Linked DNA regions of Homo sapiens. The protein of the gene in region 4 interacts with the protein of the main gene of each other region in a biochemical or structural test. Each region holds a gene or a part of one and is shown on either strand. Other genes may lie near its edges. The genes, in order: HNRNPD, NOSIP, RGPD5 and TNPO1.

Evidence for each region.
Region 1: the proteins of TNPO1 (region 4) and HNRNPD form a complex in vitro, tested with the Homo sapiens proteins (one study listed by BioGRID).
Region 2: the proteins of TNPO1 (region 4) and NOSIP form a complex in vitro, tested with the Homo sapiens proteins (one study listed by BioGRID).
Region 3: the proteins of TNPO1 (region 4) and RGPD5 form a complex in vitro, tested with the Homo sapiens proteins (one study listed by BioGRID).

The regions. Positions count from the first base shown.
Region 1 is NC_000004.12:82,370,989-82,377,833, reverse strand, and holds the start of HNRNPD (heterogeneous nuclear ribonucleoprotein D0), read left to right. Parts: upstream 1-3,842; 5' UTR 3,843-4,155; coding exon 4,156-4,388; intron 4,389-6,249; coding exon 6,250-6,306; intron 6,307-6,845. UniProt on the Homo sapiens protein: Binds with high affinity to RNA molecules that contain AU-rich elements (AREs) found within the 3'-UTR of many proto-oncogenes and cytokine mRNAs.
Region 2 is NC_000019.10:49,556,551-49,563,574, forward strand, and holds part of NOSIP (nitric oxide synthase-interacting protein), read right to left. Parts: intron 4,143-7,024; coding exon of another isoform or gene 4,142-4,142; coding exon 4,072-4,141; intron 3,490-4,071; coding exon 3,384-3,489; intron 3,355-3,383; exon of another isoform or gene 2,885-3,354; intron 2,800-2,884; exon of another isoform or gene 2,429-2,799; coding exon 2,347-2,428; intron 700-2,346; coding exon 540-699; coding exon of another isoform or gene 531-539; intron 444-530; coding exon 325-443; intron 187-324; coding exon 1-186. UniProt on the Homo sapiens protein: E3 ubiquitin-protein ligase that is essential for proper development of the forebrain, the eye, and the face. Catalyzes monoubiquitination of serine/threonine-protein phosphatase 2A (PP2A) catalytic subunit PPP2CA/PPP2CB.
Region 3 is NC_000002.12:109,825,285-109,832,308, forward strand, and holds part of RGPD5 (RANBP2-like and GRIP domain-containing protein 5/6), read left to right. Parts: intron 1-591; coding exon 592-750; intron 751-1,016; coding exon 1,017-1,154; intron 1,155-1,416; coding exon 1,417-1,563; intron 1,564-2,507; coding exon 2,508-2,687; intron 2,688-2,780; coding exon 2,781-2,864; intron 2,865-6,032; coding exon 6,033-6,168; intron 6,169-7,024.
Region 4 is NC_000005.10:72,811,768-72,819,669, reverse strand, and holds the start of TNPO1 (transportin-1), read right to left. Parts: upstream 3,010-7,902; 5' UTR 2,933-3,009; coding exon 2,918-2,932; exon of another isoform or gene 2,716-2,917; intron 1-2,715. UniProt on the Homo sapiens protein: Functions in nuclear protein import as nuclear transport receptor. Serves as receptor for nuclear localization signals (NLS) in cargo substrates.

The DNA.
Region 1 (6,845 bases), on a different chromosome or scaffold from region 4:
CCATCACCAGGTCATTTGAAGAAGCGTTTCGTTGTTGTTGTTGTTTTTGAAACAGGCTCTTGCTCTGTCGTCCAGACTGGAATGAAGTGGCATCACTGCTCACTGCAGCCTTGAATTTTTGATTCAAGCAATCTTCCCACCTCAGCCTCCTGAGTAGCTGGAACCACAGGCTCACGCCACCACACCCAGCTAATTTTTTTTTTTTTTGAGACATAGTTTCACTCTGTCACCCAGCTTGAGTACAGTGGTGCAGTCTCTACTCACTGCAACCTCTGCCTTGTGGGTTCATGTAATTTTCCTGCCTCAGCCTCCCCAGTAGCCAGGATTACAGGCGTGCGCCACCACGCCCAGCTTATTTTTGTATCTTCAGTAGAGATGGGGTTTCACCACATTGCCCAGGCTGCTCTCGAACTCCCGGCCTCAAGTGATCCACCCACCTCGGACTCTCAAAGTGTTGGGATTAGAGGCGTAAGCCACCGCACCCGGCAACAGAAACGGGTTAAACACAACCCAAGGCGTCCCTGGGTGGGCAGGAACTGATTTTTTAAATTTTTTGTAGAGATAGGTTTTGCTATGTTGCCGGGGCTGGTCTCAAATTCCTGGCTTGGCCGGGCGCGGTGGCTCACACCTGTAATCCCAGCACTTTGGGAGGCCGAGGCGGGCGGATCACGAGGTCAGGAGATCGAGACCGTCCTGACTAGCACAGTGAAACCCCGTCTCTACTAAAAATACAAAAAAAATTAGCCGGGCGTGGTGGCAGGTGCCTGTTGTCCCAGCTACTTGGGAGACAGGAAGGAGAATGGCGTCAACCCGGGAGTGAGCCGAGATCGCGCCATTGCACCTCCAGCCTGGGCAACAGAGTGAAACTCTGTCTCAAAAAAAAAAAAAAAAAAAAAAAAATTCCTGGGCTCAAGCAATCATCCCTCCTTGGCCTACCAAAGTGTTGGGATTATAGGCATGAGCCACAGCACCTGGCCAAAAGTTTTTTTTTTTTTAATGCCAGAGATGAAATGAGATGGTGTGGAGAGGAGACTTTCAAGTCCCTGGAAGAACACCTAGTTTGCTTGAAAGCCCCTTAATCTAACAAGTTGGACATACTTATTATTTTGTCATTCAATAATTCAACTGGCAATTACATAGTGTGGATATACTGCTGCTGTGTTTATGTGTGTGTGAGAGTGTGTTAGGGAGGGAGAGATACATAGAAGACACTGTTTTCTAAGAACTCATGGTCTAGTAGAAAACAATGAAGAATAACAGAGGTAAAGATAAAGGGCTGTGAAAAGGGATCATTAATTCTGCCTCAGGAAGCCTGGGAAGACTTCACATAAATAGTAACATTTGTTTGTTTTTGAGACAGGGTCTCACTCTGCCTTTCTCACTGCAGCCTCCACCTTCCAGGTTCAAGTGATCCTCCCACTTCAGCCTCAGGAGTAGCTGGAACAACAGGAACCACCATGCCAGGTTAATTTTCTGACTTTTTGTAGAGGCAAGGTCTCACTCCGTTGCCCAGGCTGATGGCCAACTCCTTGAGGCAAGCAATCCTCCCGACTTGGCCTCTCAAAGTGCTGGATTACAGGCGTGAGCCACCACGCCTGCCAGAAGTTAAGTGAGTTCCAAGAAGAATATTGTGTGGATGCAGGAGCACATCCTGGATGTAGAGATCTTGGCCATAATATCAAGGACTATCAGTGATATGGACATCATACATCCTCATAAAGCATGTAAAGGTGTTAGCTTTAAAATCATTCCTAGGTTGTCTGGAACTTTTGACATAAATTCTAAGAATTCCAGAAGCTCCTAAGCTACATGTGAAATCAAAATGAACCTTTTGGAAAAGTCACTATTACCAAAAGGTGGGTATGTCTAATGATATCTTAAGATCAAAATAAATGACAATTACCGTCACTTGAGCCAGAAAAGATTAAACAGACTTCCCTTCAGTCAATCATCTTAGTTGTATCTAACCCGGAATATATGGTTTGAGCACCATATCCACTTTATCCTTTGCTAATATTCTGGCAGGTGGAGACAAATGTGGAGTCACTACCACTTTACGGTAAACATTCTTGGTATTACCTTTATGTGACTTGATTATTACGGGAGTTTGGTAAGATTATATTTTTAGGACGTTTTCAGAATTTGACCTGTATTCTTGAGTTTTAATTATTCTGTAATGTAAATTCTACTAACTTGATTAATAAAACTTACTTATAATCTTCCTTTGAGATTTTTGGATAGTGTCCAATTAATACAAATTCGTTTAACTGCAGTGGAAAATACCTAAACTTTTTTTTTTTTTTTTTTTTTGAGACGGAGTCTCGCTCTGTCGCCCAGGCTGGAGTGCAAGTGGCATGATCTCGACTCCCTGCAATCTCCACCTCCCGGGTTCAAGCGATTCTCCTGCCTCAGCCTCCTGAGTACCTGAGATTACAGGTACCGGCCACCACGCCCGGCTAATTTTTGTATTTTTAGTAGACACGGGGGTTTCACCATGTTGGTCAGGCTTGTCTCGAACTCCTGACCTCGTGATCCGCCCGCCTCGGCCTCCCAAAGTGCTGGGATTACAGGCGTGAGCCACCGCGCCCGGCCCAAATACTTAAACTCTTAAGATTTTTGCTGGAGTCTGCAAACTCGTCTTTGTTTCCCCCGTGCCCGAACACTTTAATTAAACAGGCAAATAATTATTTGTTGACTACAGAAGTACCTAGAAGCTTCATTTTCTTCTAAGGATACTGCTGGAAGCAGCAAATCCCAAAGCCCGAATAATCCAGTCTCCAGCCGAGGCAGCGGGAATTTTTAATAGGTGTATAAAATTACTTTTTATACACCTTAATGAAACGCCTAACGGTGTTACAAGAAAAGAAAAAAAAAAACCACGCACACACAACAAAAAAGCCAAACCCGAACACAAACTCATAAACCTCGTAAAGATGACTCACGACATTTATATATTCTATGTACAAAGGCTAAAGAACATTAAGCGAACCCTTGATTTAACACACTTTCCAATTATTAGTAACGTAAAGGAATCACGGTACGTTTTAGGATCTTTAAACAACAAAAGCAAAGCAAAAACAATGTTTTCCTTAAGATATGCAAGTTACCTGCTTCTTCGACCAAAAACAAAAAAATTCCAGGAGAAAAGCAGGCAAACAAAAATCTTACTTGGAAAGCCAAATCTTAAAAAGAAGCCCTATCGGCCCAGCGGCGATAGACGAAAACCTCAATGTCACCCGGTCCCGGGCGGCGACGGCAGGGAGAGTAGCTGCGGCAATCAGTGCGCGCGCGGTCCGCTGCGGCGCCTGGCGCTCCGCGGGCGTCCGGGTGGACAGCGCCAGGGGCACAGGGCTGACATCTCAGGGCTAATTCCCTCCTCCAGTGCGTAAATCCAGGCTTAAGCCGCCGCAGGGTGTGAGCCTCCCCTCCCCCACCCGAACGCCGCAGCTGCACGGGGCACGACAGCCTTCGCAGAGGTGCAGCCACACCCCGGCCTAACGCTGCTGCTCCCGCCGCTACTGGAGTGGTGGGGAGGGGTGAGTGGACTCCAGGAATCCTCGGAAGGGCGGGGGCGGAGGCAGGGGGCCCCTCTAGCCGCTACTTCGAAACAGCACTCCTTGTTCTCGATGGTCCCCGCGCGACTGTCTTAGCTCACGACACTTCCGGTTCCTTTTAAAGGCCCCCAAGGCTGTGCAACGCGGAGCGTGAGAGGAAGGTATAAAGGGTAGCGAGAGGGCGGGACCGAGGAGGAAAGGGAAAAAAAAAAAACTAGGGGGATAGGGGTGGGGGGACGCGCGAAGGGCGCGCTCTCGCGTCACGTGACCGGGACGCGCCGTTCTTCCGTCGGCCATTTTAGGTGGTCCGCGGCGGCGCCATTAAAGCGAGGAGGAGGCGAGAGCGGCCGCCGCTGGTGCTTATTCTTTTTTAGTGCAGCGGGAGAGAGCGGGAGTGTGCGCCGCGCGAGAGTGGGAGGCGAAGGGGGCAGGCCAGGGAGAGGCGCAGGAGCCTTTGCAGCCACGCGCGCGCCTTCCCTGTCTTGTGTGCTTCGCGAGGTAGAGCGGGCGCGCGGCAGCGGCGGGGATTACTTTGCTGCTAGTTTCGGTTCGCGGCAGCGGCGGGTGTAGTCTCGGCGGCAGCGGCGGAGACACTAGCACTATGTCGGAGGAGCAGTTCGGCGGGGACGGGGCGGCGGCAGCGGCAACGGCGGCGGTAGGCGGCTCGGCGGGCGAGCAGGAGGGAGCCATGGTGGCGGCGACACAGGGGGCAGCGGCGGCGGCGGGAAGCGGAGCCGGGACCGGGGGCGGAACCGCGTCTGGAGGCACCGAAGGGGGCAGCGCCGAGTCGGAGGGGGCGAAGATTGACGCCAGTAAGAACGAGGAGGATGAAGGGTGAGTAAGGGGCATCCCAGGATAGTCAGGCCCAACTAGTCCCCCTCCCCCTCTTTATTCCCCCGCCATTAGGCCTGGTTCCCGCTCTCAGCCCGTTCTCCGGGCCCCCATGCAGCCTCCTTGCACTGGTCTCCCTTTTTCTATGTTGGGTTCCCCGGACCTTCATTTCCTTCTTCCTTTGCCTGCTTATCGCCCCCCTCCCCCATCACACACGTTTCCACCTTTAGCCGTCACCATGCTGCTCCTCGGCCCGCCCTCCTTTCCTCCCTCGCCATGGGTCTCCTCCCACCGACTTAGCCGCCAGGATTTTTTCCCGCCTGTCGTGGGGTACCTTTTTTCTTTCCATGCTGTCCCCTCTTTTTCCCTTTTTCTACAGTCTTGGGCATAAAAACACAGACACAAACAGCTTCTCTGTTTGTATTACTAAGGTTTATTTGGTGCTTCTCCACCATCCTGAAACGATGCGATTGTTTATAAGCACATGTTTTGGGGAACGCGTAGGCTGTCCACCTCTGCCTCTCCCTTGTCGGCCTTAGGCCGACTGTTTTCTTGGGATTTTGAATAAGTTTCGCCTAAGGATTTACTCATTTTCTCCACCATACGCTATCGCACAATGGCATACTCATACAGGCCCTACATTTTGACATGCAGACCAAATTGGGTCTGGTGAAATGCTCCGAGTTTCTTGTTGGTACATTGGTTTTGCTCCGCGGGCTCTGGTTAAGTTCTTAGTCGATCGGGCCTGCACTTGACTGGAGCTGTTCCTATCTCCGGCCTAGCATCTACCCTTCCCCCACCCCACTGAGTTATTCTAACCGCGCACCCTTTTCGCGCCCTCAGCTATTGGGTTCCCCAACTGTTAGTACAGATTGTACCTTACTTTTTATGTGCAACCTAATTTTTTACAACCCCCAGCCCCCTTTTTTTCCCGGTGCCCAGGATCCTATTTTGGTGTCTTGATATCTGTTTCCCGCCCACTAAGGGAGGCCTGTAGTCCTCTTAAGAGAAACAAATCCTGTATTGTGCTATGGGATACTTTTTTTTTCTTTTTGGTGCAAATTTCTTAGTATTAACTTGCTTCCTCCAATTGAAATAACAGTTGTATATACTACCTAAATCTGCATTTAGTGTATTAAAATGCAGCATTTGGGATTGGGAACATAATACGGGAGTTAGCAGGAGGGACTAAATCAGGTTTCTTGGTTGAGTTTTCTTAGCTCCGATTACTGACCGATGATCGTGGGTTCACGCTTCCATTCCTTTTTGTAATGGGGAGGGGTGTGTGTGTGTCTGAATTTTTTTTTAACTGTAAAGAGAAAGGTGTTGGTGGATATAACAAGATGTCGCTTTAATCTAGTATTAGAAAACACGATTTCCTTTACTGAGAAAGAGCCCAGGATTTGGAGGGAAAGTTGGGAGGGGAGAAGCACTTTGGAATATAGGGTTTATTAAGCCCAGCCTAGGCAGATTCTTGTCAGGCTGTTTGATGATAGTGCTGGTTTTGGGGGAGTGGTGGTGGGAAGGGAAGCAAACTTTTAAAAATTAAACAGAACCAACTCGAATTGTATATAGCTTATTTGAGAAAGGAAGATGTTAGATATTTGGAAACTTAAAACCTTTAACATTTTGGTTTTCGTTTGCTGAATTCTGTTCTTTGGACAGAGGCACCAAAATGATTAATTGTATAACTTCCTGTTTGGGGCAGGCTTTCTGTTAGCCCTGATAATTCAAATCGCAAAGCAGCTGACTTTATAGTTACCTACTGTTGAAGTGTAAATGAATTAAAGTTTTTAACCCTAACAGTGTCAAAAACTAAAACTAGAATTTTGATTGGTTGCTGTACCGGTTGTTAATTCCCTAGCCATTCAAACTCCTCCCCACGACACTCTGAAGCAGCGACGGCACAGCGGGAAGAATGGTAAAACTTTTAAATTTTATTTCTGTATTATAAAGGTTTCAGTAGTCATAATATGTAGAGGCTGTGTATTGGTTAGTTGCCCATTGATCCCCAGGAAATTCTAGACCATAGTACATACAGTAGGTTTGTACCTGGGATATATACCTTTTATAGGCATCATGTGTAATCTTTGGGCAAAATTGATGCCGTTACATGGTATTTGGTCTGTGGTAATGCATGTAGTTGCAGTTTGGCAATTTAAGCTAAACAATTAGTAACGATATTTTTATATCGAGCAAGAAAAAATATTACCGTAATCTTCACATTTGATTTATTTTAAGATGAAAAATATTTTTGTTGGAATTTAAGTTTAATGGCTAAATATGAAGACTCCTTGATATAAAATATTGTGTTTAAAATGTCATGCATGTTATACTGAAATATTCTGGAGATGTCTGAAGCAGTTCTTTAAGCAGCACTGTGTATTATGGAAAAATGTTTGTCTTTTACCTAGCATATTTGTAAATAGACCTTTAATAAGAAGTGTGTGTGTGTGTGTG
Region 2 (7,024 bases), on a different chromosome or scaffold from region 4:
GGGCCGCAGCACAGCGCAGGGGGTGGCGTTGCTCAGGCTGTCGCGGGTCACGGCACACACGTAGCGCTCGCTGCGGGTGATGAGCCCCACGCGGTCCACGGAGCTGTCTAGCGGTGTGAAGTGCACGGGCGTCAGGTCCGACATGCGCAGGGGCTTCCCTGACATGGGGCAGGTCACCGTGCGGGACTGCAAGGGGCAGAGAGAGGCGGGCTCAGTAGGCAGGGCTGGCGCAGGTGGAGAGCGCGTGGTCCCTGTGCGTGAGGAGGACGGTGGGGAACCCTGGCGCCCTGGCACCGTGCGTGCCGGGGCGCTGTGGGGGCTCACCGGCTTCTCCAGCTTGGTGGCCTTGGCTTCGGGCGTCAGCGACGGGATCCAGAAGCTGGGCAGCACTTTGTCCTTGTCCTTACTTGGAGGACCCACACTGGGCCCAGGTTGGACATCATCTGTGGGGGAAGGAAGGGACTCAGATGCCGCCCCCTGGGCCCGCCCAGCCCGCGGCGCCCCGCCCCCCAACCCACAAGAAGCCCAACCTGAGTCACCTGGGCTGGTGCCCGAGAGGGCCTTGGCTGTGAAAGGGTTGAGGGGCCGGCTCACGATAGCCGACTCCTTCTCCAGGAAGCCCCGCACATGGTCCTGCGAGGCCGCCCGCTGAAGCTCCTTCTGCTCCTCGCGCCGGGTGCCCCGCTGCTTCTCGTAGGCCTGCGTCGGGGAAAGTGGGCTGAGCATCTGCCCGTGGGGCTGGGGGTATCTTCCTCCCATTTCACAGGTAGGTAAACTGAGGCCCACAAAGGGGACCCTCTGATGGAGGCACTATGTGGCAGAGGGTGGTAACTGCCACCCTGGGTGGGTGTGAACCTTACTGCGTTGTATAGCCAGACTGCCAGGGCTCAAAGCCCATCTCTGTCACTCTGTGGCCTAAGTGAGCACTATGACCTCTCCTGGCCTCAGTTTCTTCATCTGTAAAACAGCCTAACAGTGGTTACCCACCTCAGCGGCTCACTGAAGGGTTACATAAGGTGAGTGTTTACAGCATGGAGAGCCTCACCTGGCACTCAGCTAAGCATTTAATTAATGTCACCTGCTGGCCAATTAAGTTTTCTATACAGTGCATGCCCCAGCCCGTGTTTGGGACGGGGGATGTAGACTTCAGATCTAAGGGAATGCTGAGGAGCCCATGTCTATGGACGGACAGTGAGTGAGGACGGGAGAAGTGAAGCCATGACCTGAGCTCAGCCCTGCCTGGCGCACAGCAGTTGCCTGGGCGGTGCTGCAGTTCCAGACCACCCTGGGCCACCCAGCTGAGTGAGGAGGTAACAGTGACAGTGATGGATGCTCATGAGGGCCTCCGACATGACCACCAGGCTGTGTGGAGGACATGGGCACAGGGGGAGCCACCTGCTTGGGACAAAAAGCCCAATAAGCATGTGACCTGTAGTGTTTCCTGAGCGCCAGCAACCAGGCAGGGGAAGAGGGGGACAGACCCACTGTGCCTCAAACAGGGCCCCTCCTACCCATCAAATGGCTTTGTCCATGGAAGGCCAGGCCGGGTTCCCAGTAACACGCCTTGAGAATGCTCATCTGCGTGTACCTCCCAGGTGCCCTGCTGTGTCCTCTGATTTGGCCGTCAGCCCGTTTTACAGACGATGAAACTGAGGCCCAGAAAAAATGAGGTGATGTCAATTCACGTAGCACATCTTTTTTTTTTTTTTTTTTTTTGAAACAGAATCTCGCTCGGTTACCCAGGCTGAAGTGCAGCGGTGCCATCTCAGCTCACTGCGACCTCTACCTCATGGGTTCAAGCGATTCTCCTGCCTCAGCTTCCTGAGTAGCTGGGATTACAGGCGCCCGCCATGCCCGGCTCAATTTTTTTTTTTATTTTTTTATTTTTAGTACAGACAGGGTTTCACCATGTTGGCCAGGCTGGCCTCTAACTGTTGACCTCAAGTGATCCGCCTGCCTCGGCCTCCCAAAGTCCTGGGATTACAGGTGTGAGCCACCACCCCCGACCCATTTAGCATATCTTTACTAAGGACCTAAGCTACAGGGTGGGAAAACTCGAAGTCCATAAGGGAAAGTGGGCATGTGTCAGACAGCCACATGTACAGCTACAACTATGCTAAGTGCTAAGAGAAGAGGTGACTGGGGCAGATCCTGGGGACTGGCAGGAGCTCAGAGGAGGCAGCATCTGGGCTGAAATCGGTGAGAAGGATTTGGCCGGAAGCAGGGGAGGGGAATGGTGTACCAGGCAGAGGGAACTGAGATCAGAGGGCTCTGAGTGGCTCTGCCTGTGAGCTCAGACTCAAAAGCTCCTGCCTCCGTGTGCCGCCTCCTCCCCATCCCCATCACCTTCATCTGCCGGGCAATCTCCTTCTTCTGGTGCAGAATGTACTCCAGGATGGCCTCACGCTCATACAGGTAGCCATCTGGGCTGCAAAGACAGGGTGCAATGAGAAAGAAAGAAAGTGATCCTCCCGCCTCGGCCTCCCGAAGTGCTGGGATTATAGGCAGAAGTCATCATGATCAGTCCCAAGTTCAATTATTTGCTAGAATTCACAGAACTCAGCAAAGCTGTTATACTCATGGTGATAGTTTACTGCAGTGAAAGGATGCAGATTAAAATCAGCAAAGGAAAAAGGCACATGGGGCAGAATCTAGTAGAGACTAGATTTGAGCTTCCAGCTGTCCTCTCCCAATAGAGCTGCAGGGAAAGTGCTTCATTCTCTCAGCAACAATGTGTGCCACATATTGTTGCAGCCACGAGTTCGAGACCAGCCTGGGCAACAAAGTGAGCTCCCCTCTCTACAAAAAACAAACAAAAACGCCAGGTGTGGTAGTGCACACCCGTGGTTCCAGCTACTCGTGGGGGCTGAGGCAGGAGGATCACCTGAGCCTGGGATATCAGTGAGCCAAGATGTCCCCATTGCACTCCAGCCTGGGCAACAAAGTGAAGACTCTGTCTCAAAAAAAAAAAAGAAACCTGAAGGTGGCCTTGGGGGCCCTGATCATTAATTACTGTCTTCTACAAAATATACCACTAATTGAGCACGTATTTAGTGCCTGGACTCAGCACCTGTTAAGCCTTTGCCCTACCATCAGAGGTAGGTCATGGGAAGTGTCCAAAGGTGAGCTGCTCCGATGGCCTCGGCAATGCTCTGAGAGCCCTACACCCCATTAGAAGTATGTTCCTTTCCATATGTTCCACACTATGAAACAGATGCTAGGATCATGCCCATGTCCCATGTGAGAATACAGAGGCTCTGAGGATAAACTGCTCATCCAGGGTTCCCTGGCTGTGCAGGTGGCCAGACCCACGCACACAGCCTCCTCCTGGCGGTTCCCTTGCTCTCCCCACCCAGACCTACCCATCCCTGTTCCCAGCTCACGTGACAACAGGATCGTGGCAAGGCTGCAGGGAGAGACAACAGCAGTCGAAGTCCTTCACGGCATCCCGGCTCAGTCGAATGTTCTGGGTCCCATAGCCCGAGGCCGCTGGGGACAGAGATGGGCAGAGTGATGGAGGGGCGGAGCAACAGGAGACATGTCCGTCTCCAAAGCCCCAGAGAGAGGCACAGAGACAACGCGGTGGTGGGGGTGGGGGACTCAGAGAGAAACAGGCAGTTGGGAGCCGCTGCCTGTGTGCTGGGGCCACGGGCTGAACCCACAGGGAGTTGTCAACCCTGGAGGGTGAGAGGCAGACAGGCCTGGTCACTGAGTGGCAGCTTGGTGGAGGGGCTGACGGCTGACTCCCCTCCACCCTTCTGACTGTGACCAAGCTCAAGTGCCTGTCCCTCTTTGGGCCTCAGTTTCTTCCTCTGGAACATGGGGTAACAAGAGCACCCTCCCTGACACTCTGTTGGGAGGAGTGAGTTCATGCGCAGAAGGCAGAGAACACAGTGCCGGGCCACATGGGGTCATGGGATCACCCAGCTGTTGTTTACATGGTCATGGCCATCAGTGTATATCGGGGGCGGGAGAGAGACAGGGACAGAGGAAGCAAAACCTGGGGCACGAGGGGAGAGGGTGACTCCAAGACACAGCCATGTCCCGCCTCTTCCCACCCCAGCCCTGCACCTGTGTCCTTCTTCTTCTCGTGGTAGGTGTAGACGGCCCCTGCGGTGCAGTTCTTGCCATGCCGCGTCATCCTAGGGAGGAAGGGACAGTGGCAGGACTGTGGTTACCGGAGGCAGGCAGCACAGGGAAGACCTCTGCAGCCCTCAGAGCTGATCTGCCCCCCTTGATGGGAAAGCGGAGGCGGAGAAGGGGGGTGAGGTGGAAGAGAGGGAGGGCATGTGGTCGCCAGGCCTCCTCCAGGAAGTCCTCCTTCCAGACTCACCTAGACTCATTTATATGTGAAAATAGCACCTTTAACAACAAAACTCTTTGTTTGGAGGTAAGAGGGTGAGAGACCAGAGTTCAAATTCTAGCCACTACTTCAGATTAGCTAGGGTGGTGGCTGTGCCATTTAATGGAGGGGAAAAAAAAAGACACCAAGGGGGCCACTATTGTTGATGAATCCACTCCACCTTCCCTTCCCCTCTCATATCTGTAAGCTCTGACTGAGGCCAAGGCGTGGACCAGCCCAGTGATTGGCTCAAGGCTGGGCACTTAGCTAAGGCTTGACACTTAGCTAAGGCTTGACCCAATCGCTGCCTGCCAGTCCACTAGCGACTGGATCTAGCAGCTGTGATTATGTCTCAGATCGACCGATCAGAGGGCAGGTCAGAGTAGGGCTCTGTGTCTAGGGGAAGAGCTACCTCCACTCCCACTGCAGGTAAAGGAGGAAGAGAAGACCCCAGAACCCTGGAGCTCAATTCAAAAAGCAAAGCTTTTTTTATTCTGTAAGTTTTCAAACACATACAAAACCAGAATAGTATAAGGAACCCCCATGATGTACCCATGTCCTGCGGTCCAGCAGCTGTCAACATTTTGCCACCTTACTTTGATACCTTTGATCATTCCCCATACTTAAGGGCAACCCCCACCCTTTTAAATGACTTTATTGAGACACAATTCACATACCATAAAATTAACCCTTTTAAAGTGGTTTCAGACCAGGTGTAGTGGCTCACGCCTGTAATCTCAGCACTTTGGGAGGCTGAGTCAGGTGGATCACTTGAGTTCAGGAGTTCAAGATCAGCCTGGCCAACATGGTGAAACCCCGTCTCTACTAAAAATACAAAAATTAGCTGGGCGTGGTGGCACACGCCAGTAATCCCAACTACTCGGGAGGCTGAGGCACTGAGAATCACTTGAGCCCAGGAGGCAGGGGTTGCAGTGAGCCGACATCATGCCACTGCACTCCAACCTAGACAGAGCAAGGCTCTGTCACAATTAAAAAAAAAAAAAAAAAGACATTGCCTAAGCCAAGATAATGCACATTTATTCCTATGTTTTCTTCTAGGGGTTTGATCATTTTAACTTTTACTTTTTGAGTTAATTTTTGTGTATGGTGTGAGGAAGGGAGCCCCCTACTTTTCTGGAGTTCATTTGTAAAAGGAGAAGCCCTGAACCCACAGAGGCTGGGCAGCTTTCACCAAGACTGCTTGGCCAGTAAACAGCCTGCATGCCTGTTTGTTTGTTTGTTTTTTGAGACGGAGTTTCACTCTTGTTGCCCAGACTGGAATGCAATAGCATGATCTTGGCTCACTGAAACCTCTGCCTCCCAAGTTAAAGCGATTCTCCTGCCTCAGCTTCCCAAATAGCAGGGATTACAGGTGCCTGCCACCACGCCTGGCTAATTTTTTTGTATTTTTAGTAGAGACGGGGTTTCACCGTGTTGGCCAGGCTGGTCTTGAGCTCCTGACCTCAGGTGATCCACCTGCCTCAGCCTCCCAAAGTGCTGGGATTACAGGCGTGAGTCACTGTGCCTGGCCCCTGCAGGCTTTTTTATCCCTTAAAATGATTTAGAGCCAGGCTCAGGGCTCACGCCTGTAATCCCAAAACTTTGGGAGGCTGAAGCAAGAGGACTGTTGAGCCCAGGAGATGGAGATGAGCCTAGGCAACACAGCAAGATCCATCTCTATTAAATTTAAAAACAAAGAAGTTGATGGCCAGGTGCAGTGGCTGATGCCTGTAATCCCAGCACTTTGGGAAGCCGAGGCGGGGGCGGATCACGAGATCAAGAGATCGAGACCATCCTGGCCAACATGGTGAAACCCTGTCTCTACTAAAAATACAAAAATTAGCTGGGTGTGATGGCACATGCCTGTAGTCCCAGCTACTCGGGAGGCTGAAACAGGAGACTCATTGAACCTGGGAGGTGCAGGTTGCAGGGAGTGGAGATTGCACCACTACACTCCAGCCTGGTGACAGACAGAGACTCTGTCAAAAGAAAAAGAAGAGAAGAGAGAAGATCTAGTAACATTATATACTTGTCTCACTCATCTCTAAGTTGCCACCTAAAAATTCTCCCAAGCTTAAACAGTTGCAAAGGATACAATTTCCAGCAACGTAAATGTGTAGCTGATGGAATCTAAATACTGTAATAATTTGAGACCATTTGAAAAATGCAAGAAAAAGCTGTTTCAACAGCAGAAAATTATACATGTCCTGTTTTTCTCTTTGAACTTGTATTTCCGTTCCACTTCCCTCTCTGCCACCCATTTTTAATCTAACATCGTTTTTTCTTTTTGTTTTTTTTTTTGAGACAGGGACTCACTCTGTTGTCCAGGCTGGAGTGCAGTGGTACAATCACAGCTCACTGCAGCCTTGACCTCCTGGGCTCAAGTGATTCTCCTGCCTCAGCCTCTCGAGTAGCTGGGACTACAGGCATGTGCCACCACGCCCAGCTAATTTTTATATTTTTAGTAGAGATGGGGTTTTGCCATGTTGCCCAGGTTGGCCTTGAACTCCTGGACTCAAGTGAACTCCTGGCCTCCCAAAGTGTTGGGATTACAGGTGTGAGCCACTGCACCTGGCACATCATATCTTTTGTGCTTGAAAATTCTTTTTTTTTTTTTTGAGATCGAGTTTTGCTCTTGTTGCCCAAGCTGGAGTGCAATGGCACGATCTCAGCTCACTACAA
Region 3 (7,024 bases), on a different chromosome or scaffold from region 4:
GTGTGTTTTGTGTCACCATTAGGTGTAGATGGTCAGCCTTTTGAACAAACTGACACTACAGAAGAGGCAGGTTTCAGCTATCTAAAAAGGACAACTGTTAAAAAGTAGTTTGGATTGCTACGTTAGAGTGGTATCATTAGAAGCATTTAAAAGTTGAGTGTAGAGGCCGGGTGCGGTGGCTCACACCTGTAATCCCAGCACGTTAGGAGGCCGAGGCGGGCAGATCACAAGGTCAGGAGGTCGAGATCATTCCTGGCTAACACGGTGAAACCCCGTCTCTGCTAAAAATACAAAAAAAAACTCTACTAAAACTACAAAATTAGCCAGACATGGTGGCAGGTGCCTGTAATCCCAGCTACTTGGGAAGCTGAGGCAGGAGAATTGCTTGAACCTGCACGGCAGAGGTTGCAGTGAGTTCACTGGTATTAAGGTGGTTTAGTTATTACAGTATTTGGAAGTTGAACAAATGACTATTGAGGTACCATTTGGTTTTGACTTGAAATTTTAGCCAGTTCTTACAACTTGTAAATGAACTTTAGATCTAATCATGCGTGTTCCTTAAAGTTGTGTGCTTTTAACTTTCTTTTTTAGGGCAGCGGTCTTAATTCTTTTTATGGTCAACTAGAATACATAGGGAGAAGTGTTCATTATTGGAAGAAAGTTTTGCCATTGTTGAAGATAATAAAGAAGAACAGTATTCCTGAACCTATTGATCCTCTGTTTAAACATTTTCATAGTGTAGACATTCAGGTAACAGAGTTCCTTTATGAATTTATTGGAGATGGGAATTTCCAGTTTATAAACAAAGACGTGGAGCTATAAACTGCTTAAATTAATTGCCTTGTTATTTAACGGTAATCTTGTTTTCTAAATTCACTAGCTCTCACAGATAAGATATGACAGAGAAGAGTAATGAGATGTTTGTCTCTTAAGATCATATAAAATCTTTGGAAAATCATTTGGGTTTTATATTCTGAGTATAAACAATTTGACTAAAAACTATTCTATGTGTTTAGGCATCAGAAATTGTTGAATATGAAGAAGACGCACACATAACTTTTGCTATGTTGGATGCAGTAAATGGAAATATAGAAGATGCTGTGACTGCTTTTGAATCTATAAAAAGTGTTGTTTCTTATTGGAATCTTGCACTGGTAAGTAGATGCAGTACTTGAGCTAAAAGTTGTATTTATTTATTTATTATTTTTTTTAAAAGACGGGGTTTCTCTGTTGGCCAGGCTAGAGTGCAGTGGCACAATCTTGGCTCACTGCAACCTCTGCTTCCCAGGCTCAAGCGATTCTTGTGCCTCAGCTCCCGAGTTGCTGGGATTACAGGCATGAGCCACCATGCGTGGCCAAGCTGAAAGTTTTTTGTTTTAAAAAGCTAATGATTTCATGAAAGCACTATTTGTATAGATTTTTCACAGGAAGGCAGAAGACATTGAAAATGATGCCCTTTCTCCTGAAGAACAAGAAGAATGCAGAAATTATCTGACAAAGACCAGGGACTACCTAATAAAGATTATAGATGACGGTGATTCAAATCTTTCAGTGGTCAAGAAAGTAAGTAGCAGGTTGTTGTATGTACGTTCTTACTGATAACCCACTGGTCAGTGTTTTTGCGTTGGTCTTATATTTTGGTAATTTCAAAAATACTCAGTAATATGTTGTTATTAATGCACAGAAGGGATGCGTGTGTCTAAATGCTTAGATTTGCTTGCTTTGTCTTAGGTTTGGTGTGTCTTTTTAAACTTGGGAATCTAGGTATATGCTCTTAAAAAGTACTTCTTGGGGAATTAGAAAAGATTTCTAAGATAAGACATTGATTTTGTTATCTTAGCAGTGTAATCAAAACAAATATTATAACCTCAGGACTAATTCTTAATGAACTTTGCTGAAATTGAAAGTTGTTGCTGACAACTTAAGAGCATTTCTTCTCATCGTCATCAGCCATTATGAACGCCCTTGTTTTCTTGCTGTCAGCTGTTTGAGATTGTCATGATGATGTTAAATTATGTTCAGTCTTCTGAGTGTTTTGTTGATTAATTTGTGTTACTACTCTTTTATTAGGATTTATGTTGTCTGGTGTATTGTAGCATCTGTATTTCTGTCACCATTGAAAATCAGTTAGAAAACATCAGTAACTTATTTTGTTCACTTGGAAAAGCTTTCCAAGTTAACATTCCTCTACAATTATCATGGTTAACAGAAGTAATAGAAAGAGCATGGACTTTAGAATCAGAAGATGTTAGACTGTACAACACTTTTCTGTGTTCCTGAAGAAAAAAATAGAATAAAGACAAAAAAATAAAAATAATAATACAAAACAACAGAAAAACAAAGAAAAAAGATAATTAAAAAACACTTTCACGTGTATTATTATTTAAAGTGTAAAGTGCTTATTAAAGTGACAAAAATGTAAATAAGATAAAATATATCATTTTAGAGTTTTTACTTTTGGAATTTTTTGCAAATGAAAGCCCTTAATTAATGTCTTTTATTTTTAGTTGCCTGTGCCCCTGGAGTCTGTAAAACAGATGCTTAATTCAGTCATGCAGGAACTCGAAGACTATAGTGAAGGAGGTCCTCTCTATAAAAATGGTTCTTTGCGAAATGCAGATTCAGAAATAAAACATTCTACACCGTCTCCTACCAAATATTCACTATCACCAAGTAAAAGTTACAAGGTAAACAGGAAAGAATGGAATCATTTCATTGTGAAATTGTTTCTGTTCTAAGTGTTTTAAATGCTGTTTTGTTATTTTTATTTTTTTTTTCAGTATTCTCCCGAAACACCACCTCGATGGACAGAAGATCGGAATTCTTTACTGAATATGATTTGCCAACAAGTAGAGGCCATTAAGGTAAGTCACTTAATTTCTCTAGCTGTACTTTTTATTCCAAGATTCCTTCCCTGGCTACTCTCTCACTTTTTTTCTGAAGCTGGTCAGAATGTCCCCTTGCCATCCAAATAGTATGGCAAGGGGACATTTTGGTCTTTTTTTTTTTTTTTTAAGACAAGGGTCTTGTTCTGTTGTGCAGGCTGGAGTACAGTGGTATGATCACAGCTTACTGCGGCTTCAACCTCCTAGCTCAAGAGAGCCTCTTGGCTCAGCCTGCCACGAAGCCAGGACTACAGACAGTCACATGCCACCAGGCCCAGCTAATTGTTGTATTTTTTGTAGAGATGGGATTTTGCCATGTTGCCCAGGGTGGCCTTGAACTCCTGGCTCAAACAATCCTCCTGCTTCAGCCTCCCAAAGTGCTGGGATTGCAGGTGTGAGCCACTGTGCCCAGCCTACATACCTCGGTCTTGACCCTTTACCATATTTTGTTTTGTTTTGTTTTGAGATGGAGTCTCACTCTGTTGCCCAGTCTGGAGTGCAATGGTGTGATCTTGGCTCACTGCAACCTCCACCTCCCAGGTTCAAGTGACTCTCCTGCCTCAGCCTCCCGAGTAGCTGGGATTACAGGCACCCGCCACCAGGCCCAGCTAATTTTTGTATTTTTAGTAGACACAGAGTTTCACCATGTTGGCCAGGCTGGTTTTGAACTTCTGACCTCAGGTGATCTGCCCACCTTGGCCTCCCAAAGTGCTGGGATTACAGGTGTAAACCACCGCACCCAGCCCTTTACCATATTTTTGAAAGTACTTTATGTGTCTCTCTCCTCATCTTCCACAAAATTTGAGACCTTCAAAGGTAGAAACTGTTTTATTTAAAATATAAGAGTTCCTGACACAGAGAAGGTTCCCGAGTGATTGAAGTGCTACAATGTACTAATCATACTCTGGTCTATGAGTTCATTCCCAGATTAGCTGTGGATTACATGTGTTTCAAATGTATAGCTAGGAATCGAAAAGTGGTCTGAGCTTCAAAAAGTCTTACTATATTTTAATACTTCCATATGAATTTGACTTAATTATGTAAGGAAATAGTTATGTATATATATCTTATTTTAACAATAGGGTTCAAAGGAGCTTGACTTTTTTGGAATTGGAAATAAAAGTAGGTTCTTTCATGTTTATCAAGCAAGAACTAAATTACTCATACTGCTAAAGTTACATCAAGGATATGCTGATGTGTGGCGATTATTACAGTGTGATCAGCAGCATTTGCAAATTAAGAGAATACTATTTGGTGGGGAAGACATTTTTGAATTTGCACAAAAATTTTGAATGTTAATTCTGTGTAGTCGTGGCCTATGACAATTACATACAATTTTGACTTAACATACAGGTTTCAGGCTCCCAACATTGTATTCTGTGGAAGTATAGTGGAGCACTAGTCCATGAGCTTGAAAAGCTTGGTACTAGTACTGACTCTGCCATTAATTAATGATCTTGGGCCAGTCACTTCCTTTGTGACTGTTTGGCTTCTTATCTTTAAAATGAGAGAATTATTGAAGCCAGTTCTCATCACACTGAATGTTAAAAATTACAGTTACAGCAGTGATTGCAAATTCAAAGCTCTGGTGCGGATACCAACAGTGACTATAAAGTTTTCTAGGTGATTCCACTAGTTTCTTATTTCTTGGATGTGTATGTGTAGCATCTGGACTAGGCACTGTAGATGGATGAATGGGGGAAATTTTATTTAGCTTGAAAATTGAGATAGTTTTGGACCTCATGGTTAGGTCTTTCTGGGAAATTTTTAATTGAAACACTTGTAGAAACAGAAAGCAGACATGCTAGATCTGTCCCTGACCTCACTTGTTAGAACTGATCGGATTCCTGGGCTGATACAGAGAAGTTTGAAACTTTTCAAAATTTACCTGTTTTCTGATACCACTACAATTTCTTTGGAAAAAGAATTTCCTGTTAAGTGTCTGTTTTGTAAGGGGACATTTTGTAGGTTCTAGGGTGTTGGGTATGGTGCTGTCATTTAGTTTTCTTCAGCAGAGATCAAGTAGCCACATAGCTACACTAGACGGCATTGGATCTATCTGCCATCTTGTCAAGGCAGCAGAGTTGTGTTAAGAAAACATTTTTGGAGTCAGATGTGTTTCAAATTCCAGCTGTTATTCCCTGCATCCGTTTCTCTCATTTTAAGATAGGAGCTAATATTGTTTACCTAACAGTGTAGATGGTGTAAAAATTAAGAGTTTAAGTGCATTGGACGTATTATTATATACATAATAAATTCTCTGCAGCTACTACTTTTTTCCCTTTCCTGGTGGAGCATTTGAACATCACCTTGAGAATTAGTTGTATTTTGTTTGAACACAGGGTTAAGTGAAAAGCTAATTTGGGGAGGTGATTTGGAATGTCAGGTAGTCCAGGTTGCAGTGTAGAAAGAACACACTGAAAGGATGGTCAGTGTAATGTTAGAGGACTGTGAAAGTTGGGGAAAGAAGTTTAGTTTGTAGGTACTTGTTTTTTTGAGCAGGGAATTGTCTTGGCTGGAGGTGAACGTCAGAAAGGTTAATGTAGGCAAGTGTAGAATGGAAATGAAGGTGTGATCATTTAGGAGGTTATTTGTTTAGGTGAGAGAGTTAATGAATTAGGTTTTGTATTAACGAATGAAAATGGGAGCAGATAAATTTTTAACAAATTAAGAATCATATTTTAAAATCAGCACCAGGTACCTAGAACTCTTTGGCAAATAGAAACTTTCAAAAGATATAATCAGGTCCGGGCGTGGTGGGTCACACCTATAATCCCAGCACTTTGGGAGGCTGAGGTGGTGGATCACTTGAGGTCAGGAGTTCAAGACTAGCCTGGCAAACATGGTGAAACCCCATCTCTACTATTATACCAAAAATTAGCCGGGCGTGCTGGCTGACGCCTGTAATCCCAGCTACTCGGGAGGCTGAGGTGGGAGAATTGCTTGAGCCCAGGAGGTGGAGGTTGCGGTGAGCCAAGATTGTGCCATTGCACTCCAGCCTGGACGACAGATCGAGACACCATCTCAAAAAAGAAAAAAAGAAAAAATCAGTTATTTAAATTTAAAAGAGTAAGTTTCCCCAGCACTGTTTCTGGCATGATATAATTAAATGATTAAAATTATTTGATTTTTTTTTTCTTCCAATAGAAAGAAATGCAGGAGTTGAAACTAAATAGCAGTAAGTCAGCATCCCGTCATCGTTGGCCCACAGAGAATTATGGACCAGACTCGGTGCCTGATGGATATCAGGGGTCACAGACATTTCATGGGGCTCCACTAACAGGTGAGCTGGCAAGTGGATAATCGCATATTTTAGTAAAACTACTTTACTTCCCTCTTTTAAGTAGATAACGTGTGAAATCACCTTGTTTATATATGTTTGTTAATATACATGTCAACGTCTGTTTATATGTGACTTCAAAAGCTGTATTAGGTGTTACGGAGATTTTTATAATCCCAAGCAGAAAAAACGAGCCGTATGTGATCACGTGTATATAAAGGCTTAAAGAACACTTAATCCACACCTCAGATGAGCTGAGATGAGATTATTCCTTAAATTGCAAAATGTTATTGAATAGAGTTATGCACTAAGAAATGCTTAATTAAGAACCTACACCTCTGGGGAATTATTTTGATGATAATGATGAGAGGCAGGACGTTATATAGGAAATCTTACTTAATTTGAAATATTATGGTTATATAAAGAAAGAAAAGGAGTTTGGACCTGAATCATACTGGGTTTTTAAGTTCTGCTCTATCACTTACTATAATAGCTGTGTAAGTTAACCTGTCTGAAATGTGGAGATAATACTTGCCTTACATAATTACTATGAGCATTTGTGTATGTGCAGGTGGGCGTGGGTGTGTATCAGACATTTATTAGAGTATACAGTAAACAGTTAATGAACTAAGGTTACTAATAGTGTTTACTGTGGGTTGGCTGTGTGCAAAAGTGCTGTGTGAATGTAATTTGATTTAATTACAGTAACTTAGAATGGCCGGTACCATTATTAATCCCTTTTTTATAAATAAGGAAATGGATAAAGAAAGGTTAGGTAACTTACTCATTATTATACAGCTAGTTATTGATAGAGCCGAGATTCACACTCCAGTGGTGTAACTCCAAAGCACTTGCCAGT
Region 4 (7,902 bases):
CCAACTTTATGGTCTCACGGTTATCAGCTTTTTTTCAGTACTGAGTTGTAATATTCGCTCTGGCATGGAGTGTCTTTTTGGATTAAGATGTAGCCACTATTCCTATATGTATTCTATCTACTCCAGAAAATTCCAGGACAAATCCACCTCCCTATTTCCCATTTCAATATCTCATTTGACCATTCAGACTCTAGAACTCTAATATTCCTACTTACTACAGCAACTTACAGTACTTCAAAGGACCCTTCAAAGCAACCCAATCAAACTTGCTTTTGAAAACCTCTCCTAACTAACATCCACGCATACAACTACAAATCAGTTACCACTTGCTGTGGTTTGAATATGGTGTGTCTGTCTCCATCAAAATTCATGTTGAAATCTGATCATGATCTGGTGGACATGATTTAGTTCCCTGAGGGTGAGTTGTTAGAAAGCCAGGCCCTTCCCTCAGATTTCCCCCTCTTTGCCTGGGGTGGCTTCCCCTTTGACCTTCTCTAGCAGGTTATGATGCAGCACAACAAGCTGACCAGATGGCGGCGCCTTGCTTCTTATACTTCCCAGCCTGCAGAACCGTGAGCTAAATAATAAACCTCTTCTCTTTATAAATGACCCAGTCTCAGGTATTCTTTTACAGCAACACAATACGGATTAAGGCACCACTCTTGCAAACATCTGTCTTCCATTGTGAAGCTCATCCCTTGTACAACCCAGAAGACTCCTTCACCTGCCAACACTCAACAGATTTACCATGGCAATGGCTGAATAGGGTCAACTAAGAAAAATCCTCAACCTCCAGGGGAATTTCACTGTTTCTGATCCTTCCTCTTTGAGGATGGCATTGTTCGCCATTGTTTTTGAAAACCTCATCAGTTTCTTTGATTCTCTCAGCTTTCTCATCCTTTTGCTGGTAAACCAAACTGTTTTGAGGGGGGAAGATATCTTTTTAGCACCAATATGTATTCAAATATCAATCTCAGGAAAAAATATCACAATTTATACCCTGGCCAATAAAAAGAACTCCCCCACTTACTGCTGTGCTCCTCTCTGCAGTTTATATTTGATAAATTCATTTATTTCATTACCTATGTCACTTGGTTTGACGTCACTTTATAACCAGGTTTCTTTTCTTAAAAAAACATTTGCAGAATCCAACATGGTTAAAATTCAAGAAATTCTTCTAAATACAGATGTTTACATTTCAATGTAGTAGCTCATTTACAACATTTAGAAAAACTGAGTTCATGGAATGGCTTTAAAATTATAAATAAGCAAAACTACAGTCATAAAAACAATGAATACAATAAGAAATGTTGATATTGGAAAAGCTTACAACTAGAATCATGTATTTTTACAAAAATCTTATTCTGCTCACATTATATAATGGTAATAAAGCCACTGAGAGTTGAGGTAGAAGTGCAAACAAGATTTTTATAGATATTTCAGTGGGAGGAATTTAATAATTCCTGACTAGGAGAAAGATGCAGCCACATCAAGGGTGGCGGCCCCTTTTAGGAAAAAGAAAACAGAACACTAGTACTTCATTAGGCTCACGTTAAATTGCATGAAGTAAAAATCGTACTGCCAAGCTAGTATAAATTTATGCACTGCATAGCTAGAGACTAAAAAAGATATCTGCACCTACAAACTATTGTTTCCCTTTTGTGGTTGCTAATTTTCATCCTGGCACAGCCTTCTCTAGGAACAACTACGGTGCCAGGTAAGGTGAAAGTGGAAAACAGATCCTTTCCCAAAAAACGGAACTTTCCCCTTTTCCACTAAACATAGCTTCTTCACCACTCTAACATGAAAGCTTTGATATAACAGGGAAACTTAAAAAGCTGCAGGAACTTTTGTTATTCTAAAAGTGAGTAGTACGTCAGGACAGCCATTTTACAACCTTCATTTCCAAACACCTATTACACCATACATCTTGCAATTTTAAAAGTATCTTTTCTTTAGGGTAAAAAAAGTACCACTTACACATTCATCATTTAAGTCATTACTGTTTCAAAGGACAGTTATTAAGCTTCTTAATACAGCTGTCAAAATCAATTTGTAGATAGCCTCCAATTTCAAATTTCTACATTTACATCTACTGATAGACCATCCTGATTAGCGATTAAGATAACAGACTTAAACTCTAAGCAATCCTTGCAAAATCCAGTTGATTTTTAAAATCAGTAAGCAACACGCGATCATTTTTAAAGAAAGTCATTCCGAAAATAGCTTGATTGTGGTGGCCAATCTGCTCCTCAGCAGCTGTTCCCTGTTGCTTGTACGCATGGGAGTGGAGGTAGAAGGGCAAAACCCACAAGCCCACGCAAAACTCGTACAGTCACAAACATTATGTAAACATGTCGTGAGGCCAAGAGGCCCCAAGGAGAAAGAACCGCCGGGAGGAAGAGAACGGCAAGCTGCATGTAAGGACGATGGGCGCTGTGTGCGGACGCAGGAGACCCGGGCAGAGGGGCCCAGGGCGGGACAAAGACTGGCCCATCTCGGGCAGCGCCGGCCAGCGCCCAGAACCAGTGAAAGGCAGCCGTCCCGGGGCAGCCGACTGCAGCACTCAAGGGCCCTCAAACGCCACAGCTTAACAGGCGAGGCAAACGCTCCCCTGAATGTAAGACCCTTCCCTTCCCGCCCCTTGTAACGGGCTCCTGCCGCCCCTAACGGGATCCTCGGACGCTTGAGGAGCCGCCGTCGCCTGCTCCCTACCCGGGTCCCGCAGGGCGCCTGGGCGGGCAGCTGTTGGGGTTAGAACCGCGCCGCCGCTGCCTCTCGGCTTCAAACGGCCGGGCAGGCGCCGAGAGAGCGGGCGAGCCCGGCGTCTCTCCCGTAGGCGCGTCAGGCAGCTCGGCGCTCCCAGCCTCCGTTCCCGCCCCTGCAGTTCGGGGCCGCGCACCCTCACGCCACCTACCCGGTCCCACACCATCCCAGACGCCTCGGGCGCTCGGGCCTTCGGCCGAAGCGGCACTGCCTCCTGTCCGGGGCCTGAAATGGCTGCGGAACAAAGAGAATCTGGGCTTCACCGAGCGCCGGTCCGATTGGCCGGGGGGCGGAGCCCGCGGCGGGAACATTCGGCGGCGGTCGCCTTGGCAACGGCGGCGGGGCTAGGAAAATTGCTGCCTGGGTCGGCTGGGCCTGTGGGCCTGCGTCCGACAGCGCGCGGCCGTGCTTTCTAAGCGGGCTCGGCAGCACCAGACTTCACCGGCCCGGCGCGGGGCTCACAAGTGCTCGCACTCCCTGCGGCCGGCGCGCTGACCGGAGCCTCTGGGTCTCGCACGCAGCAGCTGCAGACGCTGCCCGGCGCGGTGGGGCTGTGAGCAAAACGGCCCGCCGGTGTGGTTGCCCAGACTGTGCTGGGCCCTCCTAGGTGGATGGCCCTGCCCCAGCCTAACTTCTGTACCCCAGCATAACCTCCAAAGTAACAGCCGTGCCCTGGGAGCCTGTTCAACACTGAACATATCCCACAATAACACTGTTCCAGCGTCGCTGGTAAAAAGCAGAAATGGCTTCGGTAGGTAGACGCCGGTGGATGGCTGCCCGCTTAGAACAAGATAGGCTTTTGACGTATGTTGTATCTGGCGTATAAACTACTATGTAATTAGAATTCAGTGATTTATAAAATGTTTACGCCTCCAGGTGTTCAATCCTATAAAACTGTAGTTTCTTGCTCTTAGAAATAACAAGCCTTTCTCTCCCTAACCTGCCATCATGAGAAATTAAAATGTCCTGTATTTTCTGTACGGCAAATGATTCAAAATGGGAGTGGTGGACGTTTTTATACCCAACTGCAACAAGGGTAATGAGATAAATATCAGTTTCCTTCCCTCAGATTATTCTTATATGTAAAATTTACTGTATAAAAATACTTAAAATTTGCATAGCTAGCTGATTTTTATTTTCTAAGGTGATGATGCCCGTGATAATATTCCTCACATGATCAGTGTGAGTAGAAATACCAGCAGTTCCGACTATCTTACTGGAAGTGCTGTATATATTTTGAAAATGTGTGACAGTTGTTGCCTTCCTGTCATAGTTTAGGTAAAATTACAGTACATAATACTAGAAAATGTCTAAATTTTTACTAAGGTAATTTATTTGTTCTTCTAAACGTGTTAACAATTTTCATTTGAATTACAGTCATTTTGCAGGAACAACTAGTTTATTTAACTTAAAATTTGAGACTAAAAGTACCATTTTTTAATCATTGGGAAATTGAACTTAGCAAGGGAAAATATAGATAACTAAAATATTCATGATTTCAACATGTTATAATATTAATTTGATAGTAATTGGATACAGTAGTGTATATCAAAAAGAGCCCCCCCCCCCAAATAGGAGTAGATTACCAAGAAAAAAATGTAATATAAACTTTTCTGAATGGTAGTTTATCTGCAGGAAAATATACCCAGAAAAAGTATATTTATCCAAATAACAAATGGCTTATTTCTGCATTTGAAAAGTTACATCGTGGACTAGGATCTATACAAATCAGAAGATGTGTAGTATTTGCATTCTACTTTGCTAAAGGAAAAAACACAAATATTTCTAAAATCCAAAAGATTAGCAAATAATGACAGATGTAAATACTACTGACTAAGCAATTAGTAGGAGTTCACTTGATTAATAGTTTGGAAATAGCTGAAATGAATTGAAGAAAAAGTAACATATTATTTAGCATAAGAGGATTTATTGGCCAAAACATTTTGAAAGAAAAAAATGTTGATTATCAGATGTTGTAAAATTGAGATTAAGCAAATTAAATATGTATTCTTTTGTAAAAATTAAAGTGAATGAAAATACTAATATAAAATAGTTCTGTTGAATAGAGATTCTTACACATGTAGCCTTTTTGTCTCTTCTAGGTCAAATTAAAAAAACATGTTTTAAACAGTAAATCTTATTAACAAGGATTTATTAACATGGCTTATTTTATTTTTCTTTGACAGTTTGCACATATAATAGCAGCTATCCAGTAGTATTTTCTCTTTATACCTAAATATGCTCATGTGGTAAAACTTTGAAGAATTATTAATAATTTTTAAATGACAAAAATGAAGTTAAAATTTATAAACTTTGTTTTTACCTTTAAAACATAGATATATTTAAAATTTCTGTATTAATTTTATTTTCTTAGGTGAAAAATTTACCAAGATAAAAATAAAAACATGTTAGAAGTTACAAAATAGCATCTGAGGGAGAAAACATACCTATAAGCTTTCACCTAGGAATGACAAGATGCTTATTTTGTCAGGTGTAGCATTGTTAAAACAAGTGTGGAGCTTGCAGGCAGAGGACCTATATGCAGATGCTGGCTTTACCATTTATGAATGCTTTTGGCTCAGTCTTTCTGAGCTTCACTTTCTTTTGTCTGAAACAAGATTAAGTAAGATAAGTTACATAAAGAACTCATTAGCAGAGTGCAGGGCAGGTTGTTAGAGGGCAATGAATGAAAGTATTACTAGACATTAATATAAATCAAAGATGTTTGAGAAGGAGGAATATTATTGAAAAAGTAAGTCTGGAAATTCAAAAATTGTTAAATAAATGTCTTTAATAGGCAATTGTTGGTGAGTATATGGAAACCTAGTAAGATAAGTAATTTTTTATATACAGGCAAGCTTCTAAAATAGAATAAGCCTGGGCGCAGTGGCTCACGCCTGTAATCCCAGCACTTTGGGAGGCCGAGATGGGCGGATTACCTGAGGTCAGGAGTTTGAGGCCAGCCTGGCCAACATGGTGAAACCTCGTCTCTACTAAAAATACAAAAATTAGCTGGGCATGGTGGCGGGCACCTGTAATTCTAGCTACTCAGCAGGCTGAGGCAGGAGAATTGCTTGAACCTGGGAGGCAGAGGTTGCGGTGAGCCAAGATCAGGCCATTCATTTGCACTCCAGCCTGGGTGACAGAGGAAGACTTCGTCTCAAAAATAAATGAAAAAATAAAAATAAACAAATAAAATAGAATAGGATCTTCTAAAATATTGTCACCATTTATACTTCTGGAAGACAATTATTTCACATTAGGTAGTTTAAAGAATTGCCTTACACTGAAACATCTTCAGGTTGACATTATGAAAAAAAGTTTCAGTAATTATTTGGAAGAATTTAATTAAAATATTGAAGAGGACAATTGTAGTCAATATTCAGAAATGTGTAAATAATCTACAGGCATTTCTCATTTAAAGTAAACCCAATATATAAAGTTTGAATTCTTAAAAATATAAATTAGGGAGTTATTAACTGGGAAAAATTAACTTCAAATCTCCTTTAAGTATTAATATGTCCTAGTGATTATAATATGATTCTGCTTATAAAAAGGTCTACTTAGATTTCCACTTTTGGGAAGTTGGAATAGATATGCTTGTCCCTATTCCTCCCACTAAGTATAATTAAAACTTCTGAACATTATGTATAAAACAAACATAAAGGTCTCCAAATGGTGGAAAGAAGACAGATCAACTAGAGACCTTGGAACCCAAGGAACAACATGATGGTTAATTGCCTGTGTTTTCTTTTTGCTTTAGAGTCTTTAGAGACTTGAAACTTTACACATCAGCAACCTAGAAACACCAATGGCACAGACTAAAAAGGCCCCATCAAAACACTGCTCCAGCTGAAGGGCCAGAAAAGGAGTATGGCAGACAGAAAACTTTTTGACAATAATTGCATACTCTAGGCAAAACTACAGACAGAATTGTGACCCCATCCTACTCATGTCAGCAAAGTCCTAGTGGATAGCCTAGATCCCCACCCTCACCAGACTATTAGGTAGTTTAAAGAATTGCCTTACACTGAAACATCTTCAGGTTAGCATTATGGAAAAATATTTAAATAATTATTTAGAGGTGCCCTAAGCCCTCCTTCCCAGGGTGGTGTCAGAGAAGGTCAAATAAAGAACCAGTACTTTCATCATCACAAGCCAGTAACAAGGAGTCTCCCATCCTGGGTGTCAGTGGAGGCCAAATGAGGAACTTGGATGTCTCCTCCAACTTGGCAACAATGAGGTGGTGCCTGTTCCCCATACCCACTTCCCCTGCCAGTACCATGTTAGAAAAAGCCAGCTAAAAGAGATTTTCATAAGATTCAAAACCTCATAAATATCCCATACGTCCAGGTTTTATGAAAATCACTCATTATATCATGAACTAGGAAGATCTCAAACTGTATGAAAAAAGACCATTAATAAATGACAAAACCAAGAAGACAAAGATGTTAGAATTATCTGACAAAGATGTTAAAGCAGACATCATAAAAATGCTTCAGTGAGCAACTACAAAAACACTTGAAACAAATGAAAAAAATAGAAAGTCTCATTAAATAAGCAGAAGACATAAAGAAAAACCAAATGGAAATTTTAGAACTGAGAAATACAATAATCAAAATAAAAAACTAAATGAATTGAGTAACAGAACGAAGGAGACAAAGGAATGAATCAAGGAACTTGAAGACAGAACAACAGAAATTATCCACTCTAAAAAAGAGATAAAATAGACTAAAAAGAACAGAGTCTCATGGAACTAAGTGACTACAACAAAAGATGTAACATTCATGAAATCAGAGTCCTAGAGGGAGAAAAGAAAAAGGGTGAGGCTAAAAATACTCAAATAAATAATGTCTGAAAACTTCTGAAATTTGGTGAAAGAGATAAACCTACAGATTCAAGAAGCTGAGTGAATTTTCAACAAAGGAGCCAAAACAGTTAAATGGGAAGAAGGTAGTTATTTTTTAACAAATAGTGCTGAAACAACAGGGTATCCACATGTAAAAGAACAAAATTGGACGTCTGCTTCACACTGTATACAAAAATTAACTTAAAATGGATCATAGAACAAAATATAAGCACTAAAACTATAAAATTATCAGAAGTAAACATGGAATTAAATTTTTGTGACCTGGA